Linked DNA regions of Homo sapiens. The protein of the gene in region 1 purifies or fractionates together with the protein of each later gene. This does not show direct contact. Each region holds a gene or a part of one and is shown in the gene's direction. Other genes may lie near its edges.

The links. The genes of interacting proteins can lie anywhere in the genome.
Region 2: the proteins of TMEM185A (region 1) and PTPRG purify together in Homo sapiens (affinity purification with mass spectrometry; 3 studies listed by BioGRID and IntAct, with this or other methods). This does not show direct contact.
Region 3: the proteins of TMEM185A (region 1) and ATP11C purify together in Homo sapiens (affinity purification with mass spectrometry; 3 studies listed by BioGRID and IntAct, with this or other methods). This does not show direct contact.
Region 4: the proteins of TMEM185A (region 1) and CPNE2 purify together in Homo sapiens (affinity purification with mass spectrometry; 3 studies listed by BioGRID and IntAct, with this or other methods). This does not show direct contact.

What each region holds. Positions count from the first base shown.
Region 1 is NC_000023.11:149,607,030-149,612,524, reverse strand, and holds part of TMEM185A (transmembrane protein 185A), read left to right. Parts: intron 1-1,061; coding exon 1,062-1,238; intron 1,239-3,690; coding exon 3,691-3,898; intron 3,899-5,495.
Region 2 is NC_000003.12:62,292,571-62,295,339, forward strand, and holds part of PTPRG (receptor-type tyrosine-protein phosphatase gamma isoform 1 precursor), read left to right. Parts: intron 1-43; exon of another isoform or gene 44-147; intron 148-590; coding exon 591-737; 3' UTR 738-2,769.
Region 3 is NC_000023.11:139,797,054-139,800,553, reverse strand, and holds part of ATP11C (phospholipid-transporting ATPase IG), read left to right. Parts: intron 1-443; coding exon 444-494; intron 495-1,810; coding exon 1,811-1,875; intron 1,876-2,199; coding exon 2,200-2,281; intron 2,282-3,227; coding exon 3,228-3,378; intron 3,379-3,500. UniProt on the Homo sapiens protein: Catalytic component of a P4-ATPase flippase complex which catalyzes the hydrolysis of ATP coupled to the transport of aminophospholipids, phosphatidylserines (PS) and phosphatidylethanolamines (PE), from the outer to the inner leaflet of the plasma membrane.
Region 4 is NC_000016.10:57,144,583-57,148,869, forward strand, and holds the end of CPNE2 (copine-2), read left to right. Parts: intron 1-1,502; coding exon 1,503-1,739; intron 1,740-2,968; coding exon 2,969-3,076; 3' UTR 3,077-3,787; downstream 3,788-4,287.

The sequences.
Region 1 (5,495 bases):
GTTAGTGTTTATTTGGTATAACTTTTTCTTTCCTTTTGCTTTTAATCTATCTGTGTCTTTATAGATAGATAAAGTGGGATTCTTACAGACAGCATATAGTTGTCTTGCTTACTTATCCAATCTGATCATCTTTGTCTTTCAGTTGGCCATTTATATTTAATATAGTTATTGACAGGGTTGAGTTTTAACTGTTTTCTTGCTGCAGCCTGGAAACTGCCTCTGATCTGCAAACTGGGGCAATAGTAGGGTTTACCTCCTTTATTTCCTCCTTCTCACCTGTTCTCCACTGCCTGTTGTCAATGTCTGAAAACTGTTCTTTTGTAGACTGTATCAAGCTTCTTATTTAGGCGGGAAGGTAAATTATATTCCTATTATTAAGTCAAGGCTGGAAATAGAGGTCCTCAAGAGTATAATTTCTAATTATTTCAAGGACATCCTCTGTAGCAATTCCCTTTTATATGAGACGTGAGCATGTGTGTATGTGTAATTTATTCATTCATGGAAAGTATAATACATACACTAAAATGTTCATGCCATATGAATATGACAGATGGCTGCCTTTTTAGAAATAGAATCAGTTAGTGATAGAACTTGACCATTTTCAGAGCATGTCAGCCTTTTCCAGTCTCTGTGTCTTGGTATAGCTAGTTCCTTCTGCCTGGAATACTTCCTCATCTCACTTGCTTTCCTGCCTGGCAGCTTCCTACTTGCCCTCTGGAACCAGCTCTAGGGTCACCACATCTCTGCTTCTGAGTGCCTCCTCAGACACAGTCTGTATTTCCTCTTCCAAGCTCTCATCACAAACATTGTGCTGTATTATATGTTTCTGTGTGGTCTTCCTTCTATGAGGAAGCCTTGGAAAGCAGGAGACTTATTTTAGTCTTCTTTATGTTTCTTTTATTCCCAACACATTATGTCTGCCCCATAGACCTTTTCAATAAATGATTATTGAGTTAGTGACTCCTTTTACATGCTGACAAATGTGGCTCTTATTACTCCCCATTTCAGTATCACATATTTGTAAAAGTGAATCCTTCTTAATCGTTTTACTTTTCTCCTAGTAAATTCCTCATCTATGCCTGTCTGCTGCTGTTCTCTGTGCTGCTGGCCCTTCGTTTGGATGGCATCATACAGTGGAGTTACTGGGCTGTCTTTGCTCCAATATGGCTGTGGAAGTTAATGGTCATTGTTGGAGCCTCAGTTGGAACTGGAGTCTGGGCACGAAATCCTCAATATCGGTAATACTGCTTTATACAACCCATTGGTCTCTAGCATGAGGGAGCAATATCTTGACTTTTCTCACTTTTGATGAAGTAAGGACCATTTTATTTTCTACCTATCTGGGGTCTTAGAACTATAGTATAAGCTAACAGATCTCTTCTGTGTTTTTGAAAATTTAGTCTTTGGTATGTATTTTCTTACAAAAGCAGTGCCATTTGGGGGTAAGTTGCCAGCCAGCTCACAGATGCCTATATAATCCAAAATGCACCCAAAATACAGAACTGGTATGCCATACTAGACTAAGCAGCATGAAACCACCCTGTTTTTAGGAAAAGACACTCATATTATGTTTGGTCATGAAAGATCTTTCTCCAATACAGTTTTGGAACTGGGGCTCCCCTTGTCCCACCCTCCTAGTCCCAGAGCTTTAGGACTATTAGCAGTGTAGGGGAGGTGGCTTGACCAGGAGACCATGAGTCCCTGAGACAGCAGCTGGGGAATGAGGAAAGTCAAAGATTGGATGCCGAGAAGGAAAGCAGAGCCTTTGGGGGCAGGGGAGAGGGGTACCCTTTACCGTTTCCAACTCTTGCCCTCCCTGCTCTTGGATGCCTCCGCTGGCCCAAATTCCTGGGAGTTGGCTCACGCCAGCATGCAACCTGCTTGTTGCTGGGACCTGCGAGAGTCTTTCCCTTCTCTGCCACAGAGACTGTAACTACATAAAGGGAAAAAGGGGGACTTAAGACTGGGAGGCTATTATGAACCTCCACTGGGAAAATGAGGAGTACAGGAATTCCCAGAAGGCAGCTGCTCATGTGGGAAAAGTGTAAAGTTGAAACTACCGCACCTTTTTTTTTTTTTTTTTTTTTTTTTTTTTTGAGACAGAGTTTCGCTCTTGTTGCCCAGGCTGGAGTGCAATGGTGTGATCTCGGCCCACTGCAGCCTCCACATCCCGGGTTCAAGTGATTCTCCTGCCTCGGCCTCCTGAGTAGCTGGGATTACAGGCACCTGCCACCATGCCCAGCTAATTTTTTGTATTTTTAGTAGAGATAGGGTTTCACCATGCCAGGCTAGTTTTGAACTCCTGACATCAGGTGATCCACCCGCCTTGGCCTCCTGAAGTGCTGGGATTACAGGTGTGAGCCACCACGTCCGGCCACTACATCAACTTTTTAAATTTTTGTTTACTAAATATGAAAATGATTCAGATTGTGTAAATTACATATCACATACATGTCTAAGAACTGTAAAACAGTTACACAGAGAGCCTTGGCAGGTGAGGGACATTCATGTATAGCTGTTTCAGAGTTCTTAGATTTTTTTTGAAAGATTGATGACCTGTGTGGCTGTATGTGTTTTATTTTTTTATGAGATATTTTCAGATATCTAATATTAATTGCTTCTCAAAGAATGCAAAGTTAAATAAACATTTAGGTTCTACTAATTGATATTTAGAATATATTCAAACTTCTCTTTGTTGGTCTTATTTAAGATGTTTTGAGCAAGGAAAGGAATTGTGTATGTGGGGTTGAATGTAAGGAATGTACAGGCGTGGTCATTCTCATGTTAACATTAACCAGTGGAACATGGTTGGGTCCTACAGGAATAACCTCTGATAGCATTTTCTCTATGATCTAACTTCCGGTGTATTTGTCACCCACAATACATGTATATCATAAATGTTCATCTGTATTTTGAATAAACATTGTAGGCCTTTCAGATGCATTATAGAGCCTTTTCCTGATTAGCGGCCTTACCATTGCTCAATTGTAGATCTGTTAAGGTTATTGTGCATGATACTTAGCTAATTAAACTGATTTTGTTTGAGAACAGTTTTAACTCTTGTTCTTCTTTCTCTTTCATGTGCAGGTGTTAATTTATCTTAATGGAATAGAAAGGAAAATGAAAATCATTTATACGTTTTATTTGCATTTAAAAATAGCACCTAACAATAGTTACTACTATCTTGAAATATAACTGGCACTTGTTCATAGAACTAGAGTTATTTTTATAATATTGTGTGAAGGGTGGTTTACATGGTTTCTTGAAAAATGAGGATCATGAGACTTAAGGGGTATTTGCCTGGTTTTAGCAGCAGAAGCAAATCAGCTTGAATAATCTTGGAAGTAACTCTTGTTGTTGAATTTAAAGATGTGAACAGAAGTGTTTATGTACATTGTCAGGGAAATAAGAACTGGCTATTACTTTTGAGAATATCCTTATACGGTTAAAACATTAAATTCTGGTTTGGTTGTAATGTTCATTTTGTATTATGTAGTAGTTCTTCGATGTTTCAGAGATTGCCTACCAAAGCTTAGGTTTAAGTTAGCTTTCTACCTGATTTCCCTTTGCTTTTGTCAAATTTTCAAGTAAAATTCAAAGTATAAATATAAGTTGGTATTTGCCCTGAACTGCTTGCTTATAGTGGAGATTCTGAACTGAGGGTGTTTTCTTCTTCTCTCCCTTTTTTAGAGCAGAAGGAGAAACGTGTGTGGAGTTTAAAGCCATGTTGATTGCAGTGGGCATCCACTTGCTCTTGTTGATGTTTGAAGTTCTGGTCTGTGACAGAATCGAGAGAGGAAGCCATTTCTGGCTCCTGGTCTTCATGCCGCTGTTCTTTGTTTCCCCGGTGTCTGTTGCAGCTTGCGTTTGGGGCTTTCGACATGACAGGTCACTAGAGGTGAGATTTCATATATTTAAGAATGTTTTCCACTTTGGGAGGTCAAGGCAGGTGGATCACTTGAGGTCAGGAGTTTGAGACCAGCCTGGCCAACATGGTGAAACCCCATCTCTACTAATAATACAAAAATTAGCCGGGTGTGGTGGCATGCGCCAGTAATCCCAGCTTCTCCGGAGGCTGAGGCGGGAGAATCTCTTGAACCCAGGAGGCGGAGGTTGCAGTGAGCCAAGATTGAACCATTGCACTCCAGCCTGGGTGACAGAATGAAACTCCGTCTTAAAAAAAAAAAAAAAGAATGTTTTCAAAAGTAAAATATTTTGCTCAGTTATTCAGATGTCAATTTCTTACCCTTTGTTAGGAAGAGCTTGATCATTACCAACTCTACATCATGAGACAACAAGGCAACAAAAGATGATGGAAATAACAATTTTTCTTTCTTCACTTAGAACACTAGCTTTTCACCCAGGACATCAGCCTTCTCCCAGCTTCACATCCTGTATCAATCAGACAGAAACAGAACTGATAGGTTAGATACAGATATATGTATAAAGAGAGTTAAGGAACTGGCTCACATTACTGTGGGGCTGGCAAGTCTGAAATCTCCAGGGCAGGTGAACAGGCTGGAGACCTAGGAGGAGTTGACACTGCAGTCCTGGCACAGAATTTTTTCCTCTCCAGGAAACCACAGTTTTTGCTTTTAAGGCCTTCACCTGATTGCATGAGGCCCACCCATGCTATGGAGGGTAGTCTCCTTTATTCAAAGTCAGTACCTTCACTGCAACAGCAAGCTTAGTGTTTGATTAAATAACTGGGTACTATAGCCCAGCCAAGTTGACACTCAAAACTGACCATCTCCCCACCTCAGACCCCATGATTTAGCACCTCCCCTGCTGTCTGGTTAGCTTATCCTGATGTGCCCCTGTGTTTGTTTATTCATTCAATAAACATTTATCAAGTATTTACTAGATGCCAAGCCCTTTTTCCCTAAGCATAGAGGATATGCAGATGAATAAAATACCAGGACTAGTAATAATAGTAATGAAAGTAATTGCAGATAACGTTTATTGAGCACTTACTGTGTGCCAGGCATTGTGCGAGGCACATTACATGTGGTAGTTTTCTTACTAACTAACTCTGTGAGGTAGGTCCAGAGAAGATAAGTCATTTGTTCATGGCCACATGTGAAGGGGCAGGACCAGGATTCCGTTTGAGTCAGCCCGACTCTAAAGCCCGGGCACATAACTACATAACTGCATAGAAGCTGAGGGCCCAAAGCTGAATACTGATGGGTTGAGGGGAGAACTAGAGGCTGTAGATGCCTGGTTTTGAGCCGTGTGGATGAAGAGTGAAGGGAGAAGACTGCAGTTGGCTTAGGAAGTAAACATAGCAGCTGTAGGGTGGGTCAGGCATATAAGCCTAGACCCCAGGTATGGGCGTGAGGGGAAGGTATGTAGACAGAGGGACGGTGATGGAGCAAGGCCCTGTGGGACTCAGGGAGAATGGGACCTAGAGCACCAGGAAGGGTTTGGCCTTGAACAAGGGGAGCTATTCCCTGATTTTCATGCTGGTGGAAAGGCCACAGCATGGGTATAGTGGT
Region 2 (2,769 bases), on another chromosome or scaffold:
TATGTGTAAAACCTGTACTACATCAGTTGAAACTCAGACTCACAGTTTAGAGCAGTAGTTCTCAATTGGGGGTGATTTTGCCCCCCAGGGGACATTTGGCCATGTCTGGAGACTTTTTTGCTTGTCACAACTGCAGATGGATGGCATCTAGAGGATACAAGCCAGAGATGCTGCTAAGCAAACTACACAGCACAAGACAGCCCTCAACACCATAGAATTATGTGGCCCAAAATGTCAGTAGTGCTCAGGTTGAGAAGCCCTGCTTTAGAGGATAGTATTCTCTGGTTATCTTCATTAACCAGATATTAACCAGATATTGGTTATCTTCATTAACCAATAATGATTGTTCATTAACAATCAGCACTGAGAATTGGTTCCAAGCTAACAGAGATCAAAAGGACATGAAGAAGGTATAGGTCTTGACTATAATAAATTCAAATGATTTTTTTTTTAGTTTTTTTAGATAACATTTATGCTATTGCTGTTTCTCTAGTGTGTTTTTCACAATTACCATTTTAATTGGTATTTCCACCTTATGTGAAATCACTAAACTGTTCTTTGGCTCAAACTGTCTTCCTCTTGTTTTTCAGGAACAATACCAGTTCATCTATAAAGCAATGCTTAGCTTGGTCAGCACTAAAGAAAATGGAAATGGTCCCATGACAGTAGACAAAAATGGTGCTGTTCTTATTGCAGATGAATCAGACCCTGCTGAGAGCATGGAGTCCCTAGTGTGACTGGAATCCTGAAAGGGCACTTAATTTGTAAACTTCTGAAGACTGAGAACTTTTTTGAGGCCTTTTTTGCCAGACTCTAGGTTATACAATAACCCAGTTACTTTTTTACACTGATAAAAGTTTTGATATTTATTTTTTGCCATTTTATGTCTTAATGGTATCCTACTGAGCATTTGCACCTCTGTTCATTTCACACAGTGAAACGCAATTTTACCTAGTTTGCACTATATGATCAGTGTTACTGCCTATAATCTTATACAACAGCAAACCCTGATGTGACATTCCATGACGACATACATGCTACTTTTTTTTAGTTCAATACAGTGAAGGTCTTTGTTATGACAGTGAATATTGCTTTTATTATTATTATTGCTGAAGTGGTTGCATTCTACTAGCAGGCAATGCTGTACTTTTCTTCAGTCCTCCTCTCCTTTTTATTTTAGGCACTGTTCAATACTGTATGCCTTCTGTATTTTAATGGAGTGGATAGCATTGTTTTCTTTTACAGACTAGCAGGCTACTGGGACCTAAAAAGGTCTGTTAATGTCATGGCCTTGAAACAGTTCCATTTATGCTGGTTAAGAGATCCCTTAAGAAGTTAGAAGGCTTAAGAACTGCTTCATGTGAACATCCCTTATTAGTTACAAAGTTATATTCACAGTTTTTTAAAAATGTGTCAAAATAAAGGATAACTCTGTATTACAGCTTTCACAGTAGCTATGTGGACAATGTGTTATTTCCATTTTGACTCTCTAAAATAGCTACATCCTAAAATCAGGGCTATCTTTAACAATAGCAAGATAGCAATATTATATACAACTCAGTTATGAGACCCTTTAGTTATTCTCCATTAATGCTTCTTAGTTTGTAATACCATACCTCACAGTAGGTAGAAGAATGAAAACTTCTGCAGGTGTGTAATTTTGAAACTAGTCCTCTAAAAATTCCCTATTACTCCTATAGCAATCTAATAAAAACTACCTACATAGTTACTGTTTTCTTTCCTTCTTTGCCAAATGTTTTATAATAAATCTCTTAATTACATACATTTTTCTACTTAAGATTAAATTGGAAATACTGTCTTAGCAAAAGTCTTGGGACTATCTAAACTCCCACACATAGATAAATCTGATTTGGAGAGAGAAATTTAAAATATTTAATTAAAGGTGATACCCACATTTTCAAGTTTTTAAAAGAGGGAGATGGCTTTGTATGCTTTTGTGTAGTTTAGAACAGATACACATTAGTAAAAGATACCAATAATCATTAGAGCTCAAGGAAGTTATTAGGTGCAGCCTCTGGAGCCATACTCACGCTGCAGTGCATAATGGGAAAATTAGGAGCATTAATAAGAAATTTCAGTAGTGTTTGTAAGGAAAATAAGCTACTTACTGAGATCTGTTTCTTCTATTGCATGTTTGCTTTTGAGGGACAGCTTCTGTCAAAAGTGAAATCATCACCAGAACTGGGCCTGTTAGGAAGAATAGGGTTTTATTTACTTTTTATGTCAATTAACTTCAACAAAAAGGCCACGCTGGCTGCTGTCATGCCATCTGGGTATGCATTAAACATTAATGATGATCAGCACTGAGGTTCTATTTATCTTGATTTGGCTTTCATAAAGTTTGTCAGAATGGTGCTGGAGGACCAGAAGTGCTAAGGAGAAAGAAGCTATGGGCCAAGTTAAAGAATTTGAATGCAAAGGCCAGGTCAATGGAGTTTTCATAAACTACATAATTTACCAGGGTTTATCTCATCTTCTCAATACATAGATTTAACAACATGGAATACTCTGCTTTTCAAGAGCTGCGTAAGCTAGTCCTGAGATAAGATGTTCAAGAGAGCATGCTAAGTTGCATGTGCTAGATGAGAGACACCTTTACAGCCCCTCCGCTCCAACCAGAGGTGACACAGGAAGCTCTGTAAAGTTCAAGTAAAGCTTGAACACAGGAACACTACAACTGCCAGATGCTGAGGAGAATCAGGAAAGCAATGAGCTAGACTCTTTTTTTAGTCAATTAAGTGGGTTGTT
Region 3 (3,500 bases), 9.8 Mb from region 1:
TGGTTTAATTAGCGCTCCAGTGATTCTGATGCACACTCAAGTGTAAGAACTACTGAACTAGCGGTTTTGAAAATTGTATTTTAGCACCAGAAACCTTTCTTCACATGATCCAAGATAGAAGTTACGTTATTTATATAAACTTATAAAAGAGAGAGGTGTTGTGTGCATGCATGATGTTAAACAGAACTTGAAAATCAATTGAGAACCTTTGTTTCTGCTCCTATAATCCCATCATGTTATTTAAAAATTATATGAAAATGTTATACACCTTATCAATTCAACATAACTTTTTTTCCCCCAGAAATATAATAGGCTTTTGTAGTTCATTCACAGTTTTATCTATCTCTGTTTTATTATTTGTATTTTCATTCATTCTCATATTTCTGGTACATGGATTTCACCTGGATGTAGAAAACACATTTGCAATTTTGTTCTTTTTACAGATTTGTTGGGCGAATCAATATCTACAGTAATAGTCTTGAGGCTGTTGCCAGGTAAGTTTGCTGTTTCTTTAATTTGTCCTTTGGTTGGGGGGGGGGGTCTATTTTTCTGTTAAATCAACTAAAATAGCCAAATACCTTTCTATTATAGAAAGGAATATAGGCCGGGTGCGGTAGCTCACGCCTGTAATCCCAGCACTTTGGGAGGCTGAGGTGGGTGGATCACCTGAGGTCAGGAGTTTGAAGCCAGCCTGGCCAACGGGGTGAAACCCAATCTCTATTAAAAATACAAATTTAGCTGGGCGTGGTGGCACACATCTGTAATCCCAACTACTCAGGAGGCTGAGGCAGGAGAATCTCTTGAACCCGGGAGGCGAAGGTCGCAGTGAGCCAAGATTGAGCCATTGCACTGTACCCTGGGCAACAAGAGCAAGACTCCATCTCAAAAAAAAAAAAAAAAAAAAAAAAAGGAATATAAAGGTGAATAAGCAACTAACCTTGTGATTGGTAGAGTTGTGGTGATAGGGTCTCTGTGTTGTGGGGAGGGGGCTGTTAGAAGTAATGCTTATGGTTTCCAAAATAGCAGAGCTCCAGACATTTTGGATTATATTCCCAAACCTGTTCTAGCCATGTTATTTATTATCCTCGGTTGTGAAGTGGCTGACAACATTGGAATTATAACTGGAGAACAGTGGGAGAGTAATTGAGAAAGTAAGCAGTGGGTAAAATGCTGGAAGAACTACCTGGACTTACGTAAAATGAAAGGCTTCATTAAAACGAATTGTTTTATGTATACGAATTGTATGTATCAGCCTTCATACAATTTATCAAGCAGTTCATACAAAAAGGGATGCTTTCTTTCCTCTTCTATCATCATATTAATTACCGCAACTTTTCCACTTGGCCTTTACAGCCACACTCAAAAAGTTAAAGAAATACAGGGTCCCCAGTGATCCCCCAAAAGGAGGGTTTATTCTCTCCAAATATGTCAGTATATTTTTCCCACCTTGACGTTTGCATTCCCTGTCTTTTATTGATGGCTGTCTGCTTTTGTGTCTTGCGATCTGCTGCTCTGTTCTGTTCTCGTCTTGCTATCCATGATTCATAATCCTTTTATCCCCCCCCATGTATTTTTTTTGCCTATGTGTGTTGCTGGCTACTCCCGTACTGTGCTTCCATCTGTGCTGTACCCTCAAGTAACTTCAGAGTGAAGGACCTTTCAGCTTGTCCTGGGGAGTAAGCATATGGTATAAGTAGACAGATAACATTCTGAACCCCTTGGAGATAGGTGTGTGTCAGGGCAAAATCTGTCCCCAGAGTTGTTGATGCTATTGGCTTGTTTGGATAAGCTGTGTTCATTTTTTATTTAGGTCTTTGGGACCTGAAAATCTCTTGCTGAAAGGAGCTACGCTAAAAAATACCGAGAAGATATATGGTGAACAATTTTTAAGATACACCTATCAAAAAATATGCTTTGTAAAGGCTGTGAATAAATAGTGCATATTAAAAAGTAAACATGGCAGGTTTGCCATTTAATTTAAACCTACATTTAGGTGTTGGGAATTTATAACGTGGTAAACTAAGACGAAATATGACAAATACTATATATAATTAAAATTATCCTATAAATGATATACAACTGGTGAGTGGAAGAGGGCCTAGATTTCCCACTTTTATAGACTTAAAAATTCATAGAGCCAGCTGGGTGAGGAGTTGGTTGACAAGTTCTTAGTTTTTATTATATTCTGTAATTTCTTAGGAGTTGCTGTTTACACTGGAATGGAAACCAAAATGGCTTTGAACTACCAAGGGAAATCTCAGAAACGTTCTGCTGTTGAAAAGTTAGTATGCGCCACAATTTATTTAGTCATTATTGATTAAAATAGTTACTTTCTTGGTAATTCCAAGTAACAAGCATAACAAAAAACAACATCAATTATAATAGCAACTACAATTTTAAGCACTTGTTTATGTACCAGAAACTGTGCTCAATGATTTGTATGTCTGATTTGGTTTAGTCCTCTGAAGAACACTGTGAAGTAATTCATGTTAACCTCTCCACTTTACAGATGAGGAAATGGTCTTGGAGATGGTATGTGACTTACCTAAGCTCACATAGCTATTAAAGGGCAGAGTTTACTTGAACTGTAAATTCATTCCTTTTTGCTAGTGGAGTTAATGGTTTGGAGTCCTTTAGTTGCTATATGCAAGTTGGTTCTATAATATAGATAATAGTCTCCTGGCACCTATTGAAGCAGTGCCTCGTAGATCCTCAAGCCAGTTGCCACTGCTATAGACCTCACCCTGTATTTGGCATGGATAACCAGTATATCACTGGCACCCTTTCCATAGCTCCACTTTTAAACTGAAAGAACCTACACCGAGCTTGAGGATTTCACATTGCTACCGTGCCCTCTACCCCAAACATTTAGGATTCAGGGAAATGGAGACAAGATACTCTTTCTATAAGGGTTGAGTAAGTAATGGTGTGTGTATGTGTGCATGTGTGTACCTCTCCTGTCACTTTACAGGAACCTTAATAAGGTGTGTTCAGCTAGTCAGCCATTGCACTTGGGGGAGCATTGGTGGTCAATAAACAGTTCATGGCCAGCTTTTCCATTTTGCCACTTGAAAGTAATGCTGCAGCTATGATAACTGAGGTTAATACACAAAGGCTTGTGCTGTAGTTACGCGTCGTACACAGAAAAAGCTTTAGATGACTCAGTAGTTTAATTCATATCTGACTGATGTCTTTGGTTTTAAAATCCATGCTATCTTATTTTTCAGATCTATTAATGCTTTCCTGATTGTATATTTATTTATCTTACTGACCAAAGCTGCAGTATGCACTACTCTAAAGTATGTTTGGCAAAGTACCCCATACAATGATGAACCTTGGTATAACCAAAAGACTCAGAAAGAGCGAGAGACCTTGAAGGTAATTTGTTTTCTGCTGAAAATTGAAACTATTTTTTGTGACTGAGCCAACCTTCACTGAAATGCTGCTCAGGGAAACGGCACCTTTTGTTAGCTTCTGAATTTTCTCTCGATTACATGGTG
Region 4 (4,287 bases), on another chromosome or scaffold:
GATGTTACGGATGGGGGAAACTGAGCTTCCCCTAAAGGGGTCAGCGGGTACTAAGGACAGAGCTGAGCTGAAAATAAGTTCTTGGCTGGGCGCGGTGGCTCACGTCTGTAATCCCAGCACTTTGGGAAGCCAAGGCGGGTGGATCACCTGAGGTCAGGAGTTTGAGACCAGCCTGGCCAACGTGGTGAAACCCCAACTCTACTGAAAATACAAAAATTAGTCGGGCATGGTGGTGGGTGCCTGTAATCCCAGCTACTTGGGAGGTTGAGGCAGGAGAATCACTTGAACCCAGGAGGTGGAGGTTGCAGTGAGCCCAGGTTGTGCCAGTGTGGGCGACGGAGCGAGACTCAGTCTAAAAAAAAAAGAAAAAAGAGTTCTTGGCCAATTTGGAATCCTGGGCCCTCACCCTCAGATGGTCCAATGAGCCTTCCTGCACTTCACTCAGGCACACCCCGGCCCCACTTCACAGTTTGTATTTTATATATCTCCCACACTAATTATTCAATTTTTAAAATTTAATTTATAAAGAAACTCTATATCCCATTGTAAATGAAAAAAAGCAGTATCACTTGCCATAAATAGAGAGTAACAAAAATAAACACAACAAGCTGTACAATGGTATTAAAGCCTAGCTGGAGACTATTGTCTCCTCAAGCTCTGGGCTTCCTGCCTTCCCTTTCCGTTGATAAGGAAGCTTAGCAAATGTTAGAGAGACGTGAAAGACACAGTAGTACCAAACCAAGACTTGCTCCTGGGTGCAGTTCATAGAATTGAAAGGCCACTGCAAACCAGTCCTCTTCCGGGGTGACTTGATGACTTGATGGTGCTCAGTGCTGTGTTTGGGATGTGACTCAAATCCACTTATTTGTCAGCAGAGTCCCACACTCCTGGAAGCCCTGGCCCAGACGACCTGCTTTAGCTCCCGCAAGGTGTCTCAGATTGTCGTGTTGAGTAGGGAATGGAGGGGGTCACAGGTGCCCATGCCCAGGTGCAGCAGAGAGGGGGAGACCGGTCCCAGAGCAGCCCATCAGCCAGATGAGTCCCCCTGCGCCAGCCGTGGGCCTGTCGGGAATGCAGCTGACTGGGCCACTGCCACGTCAGGCACATTATCTGCAACAACTCCCACTTTGCAGATGAAGAAACTGAGGCACTACGAGTCAAGTCAGTTGCCTAGAGTCCCACAGTATAGCAACTGGCAAGGCCAGGCCCAGAGTCCAGGGCTCTCAGAGGCCCCAAGGGGGAGTCTAAGATAACACACAGGGCAGGAGGGGAGAGCAGTTTGTACTTCCTGCTGTGACCAGGTCAGAGTTTAGAGCATGAGAGGCCTGCAGGGGTGGGGTGCTGAGAGCAGGACGCATAGTGAGTTGTCTGGGACTTGGCTGCAGCTGGGTAAGATGCACTGCCTTCCTCCAGGACTCGGAGGGTTTGGGATGAAGGAGGGAGGGAGAAGGGGTGCCAGAGCCTCGACCTTGCTGAGTGCCCCGTTGGCCCCCTCCCTGCAGCAGTACTTCATCCTCCTCATCATCACGGACGGGGTCATCAGTGACATGGAGGAGACACGGCATGCCGTGGTGCAGGCTTCCAAGCTGCCCATGTCCATCATCATCGTGGGCGTGGGCAATGCGGACTTCGCTGCCATGGAGTTCCTGGATGGGGACAGCCGCATGCTGCGCTCCCACACGGGGGAGGAGGCAGCCCGCGATATTGTGCAGTTCGTTCCCTTTCGAGAGTTCCGCAACGTGAGTGTGGGCCTGGGCTGGGAGGGGGCGGTTACAGGATCCCAGCCACCATAGCTCATAATCAAGCTTGAGAGTCTTGGGGTTGTCTGGCCCAATCCTAGACTTCTCCACTCCATTGACTATGCTCTTCTGAGGGCCTGCCATGTGCCAGGCGCCGTGCCAGGCCTTGCCCCGGTGGTGGCCATTGTGATAGTGTGAGCACTTGCTTCCACAAACTGATGGAACATGGAGCCGTGGGCATCTAGCCTGAGGCTCTGGGGCAGGGCTTCCTGGAGGACCTGCCCTCTAGTGGGGTCTGATGAGAGGCTGGGGCTATCCATGTGGTGTAAAGTGCAGGAGGAGAGAGGGGTTTTCCTGATCATCACGCCCCAGCAAGCCCCCTCATTTTGTAGACGGAAAACAAGGCCTCCCAGTCATCTTAGGTTGACCTCCTCTCCCTAAAGCCCTCTGCCTGGGAGAATGGTGTCCCCAGCCTTGTTCCTGGAAGTGGCTCTGGCTTTATTTGCAGGTGATCCCAGATCTGCCCACAAGGAGGCCGGGGTTGGCCTCCTGATCACTGCCCTAGCAGCAGGGTCCATGAGGAGTCCCATAGGGGAGCAGTCTCTCCACTGTACCGCTGTACTGTAATGCCACCCCCATACTGCTGGCTGGGGGCTTAACCCAGCCTCAGCAAGAACTGCCCATGCTGGTTTGCACCCAGTGGCCCTCACCTCTCTTCCCAGCATCCTCTGGGGTTGCCTGCGATGGTTCTACTCCTTCCTCTGGAGCATTCGCTTCCTAAGGACAAACCCTGGGCATCGGTCACCCCTTCATGCACAGGTCGGTGACCGAGTACCTCCATGTGCCTGGCCTGTGGCTGGCTGTTCACTAGTGAACCATACTGTCAGGCCCATTTATTCCCGCCAAGAAGGTGCTCAGGAGATGTTTGCCGGACACATAGGTGCTTCCCGCAGACGGAGTCATCCTAACCCGTTACTCCCAAGCATCTCAAGTGCTCCAGGTAACACTTACACCTAACCTAAAGGAAGGCACTGCGATCAGGGGGAATTTCAGGCCTGGCCTGGGCTGAGATGAGGGATGCCACTTGCAGACAGCCCTGGCCCGCAGCCCTAATTTTGTCCTCAATGGACACCTGCTGTAGCAGCCCTCTGGGCATAGTGCCGCTCACAACTTCCGGTCATTAATCCTTATTCTCTCTCTTCCCCACCCCACCCTCCTCCACCCTGCAGGCAGCAAAAGAGACCTTGGCCAAAGCTGTGCTGGCGGAGCTGCCCCAACAAGTTGTGCAGTATTTCAAGCATAAAAACCTGCCCCCCACCAACTCGGAGCCCGCCTGAGCTCCAGTGCCCAGCAGCAGCATGTCAGCTGAGCCTCCTGCCCTCCCCCAGGAACATGCACGCTCACTCTGCTTCCTTGTGGGTGGCCTTTTTTTACCGATCCCCTTTTTTATTTTTTACAACCGGACCTCCACCCCCAACTTCCTCCAGCCCAGCTGGGCTTCCTTTGTTGGAGTCAACTGTTGATGCTTCCAGGCCAAACTGGCTTCCTCTCCTCCTCTCCCCACCTTTGCCATTCTTAAGTATTGAATGTACTTTGTATAATTTTAGTGGAATTGTTATTGAGAATAAAATTTTTACAATCATAACTGGCTTTTTCCAAGTAACTAGCTGCAGACTCTGATGAAAGAAACATGTCCTTGGTGCATACGTGTCGTAGCCTGCACCTAATTAATTCCTGCTGTTTTTTTAATACTGTGACTGTGTTCTATTTGTTATATGCTCAGGGTAACAAATGAGTTTCAGACGTCCCTGCGTCAGCTCCTTCCTCAGCAGGGACCTGACGGGCTCACTGATCTAAGAAAGGAAATGGAAAATGAAAATCCACCCCACAAGTCTAATAAGTTGGTGTAGTCACTTCTGCATGGGGACATGCATTCCAGATGATAACCTGTTAAATCACTGCCAGTTAACAGTGATAACCTGTTAAACTGGCACAGAACCTGGCACATTGTACAAACTCAATAAATATTCATGGATGAATAGAATGAATGTGCAGGCCCATACCAGTTTCTGACATATCCCTACCCCACAACTGGACAGCAGTCCCAGCCACCCATCTGCTCCTCCTTGGGTCTCCCGGGTGTTTGGGTTGGCCACCTAGAGGTCTGTGAAAGCCTCTCTGGCCTCAGGACCCAAAATGGGGCTGCTTCTGACCCTGCTGTTTCTTCCACATCCCCCTCTCTAGGCTCAGGCCCAGTTTTATGAAACCAGCCAGAGGACCCCTCTCTGAAAGTTCAGCCCCGCTCCCAGGTCCCTCCTTTATTCCACATAACACCTCTTTCTCCTTTATCCACCTGACTCCCGCTTGGACCTCCAGGTAAGCCCCCTGGACACGGGCTTCCGTGTAACCAGTAACAGCTAACCCTCCTATTAAGCACTTTGTTTCCAGCTCCGTGTTCAGTATTTTGCAGGCACTTTTTCTGAGACAGGGTCTCACTCTGTCCCACCCAGGCTGGAGTGCAGTGGTGTGATCTCGGCTCACTGCAGCC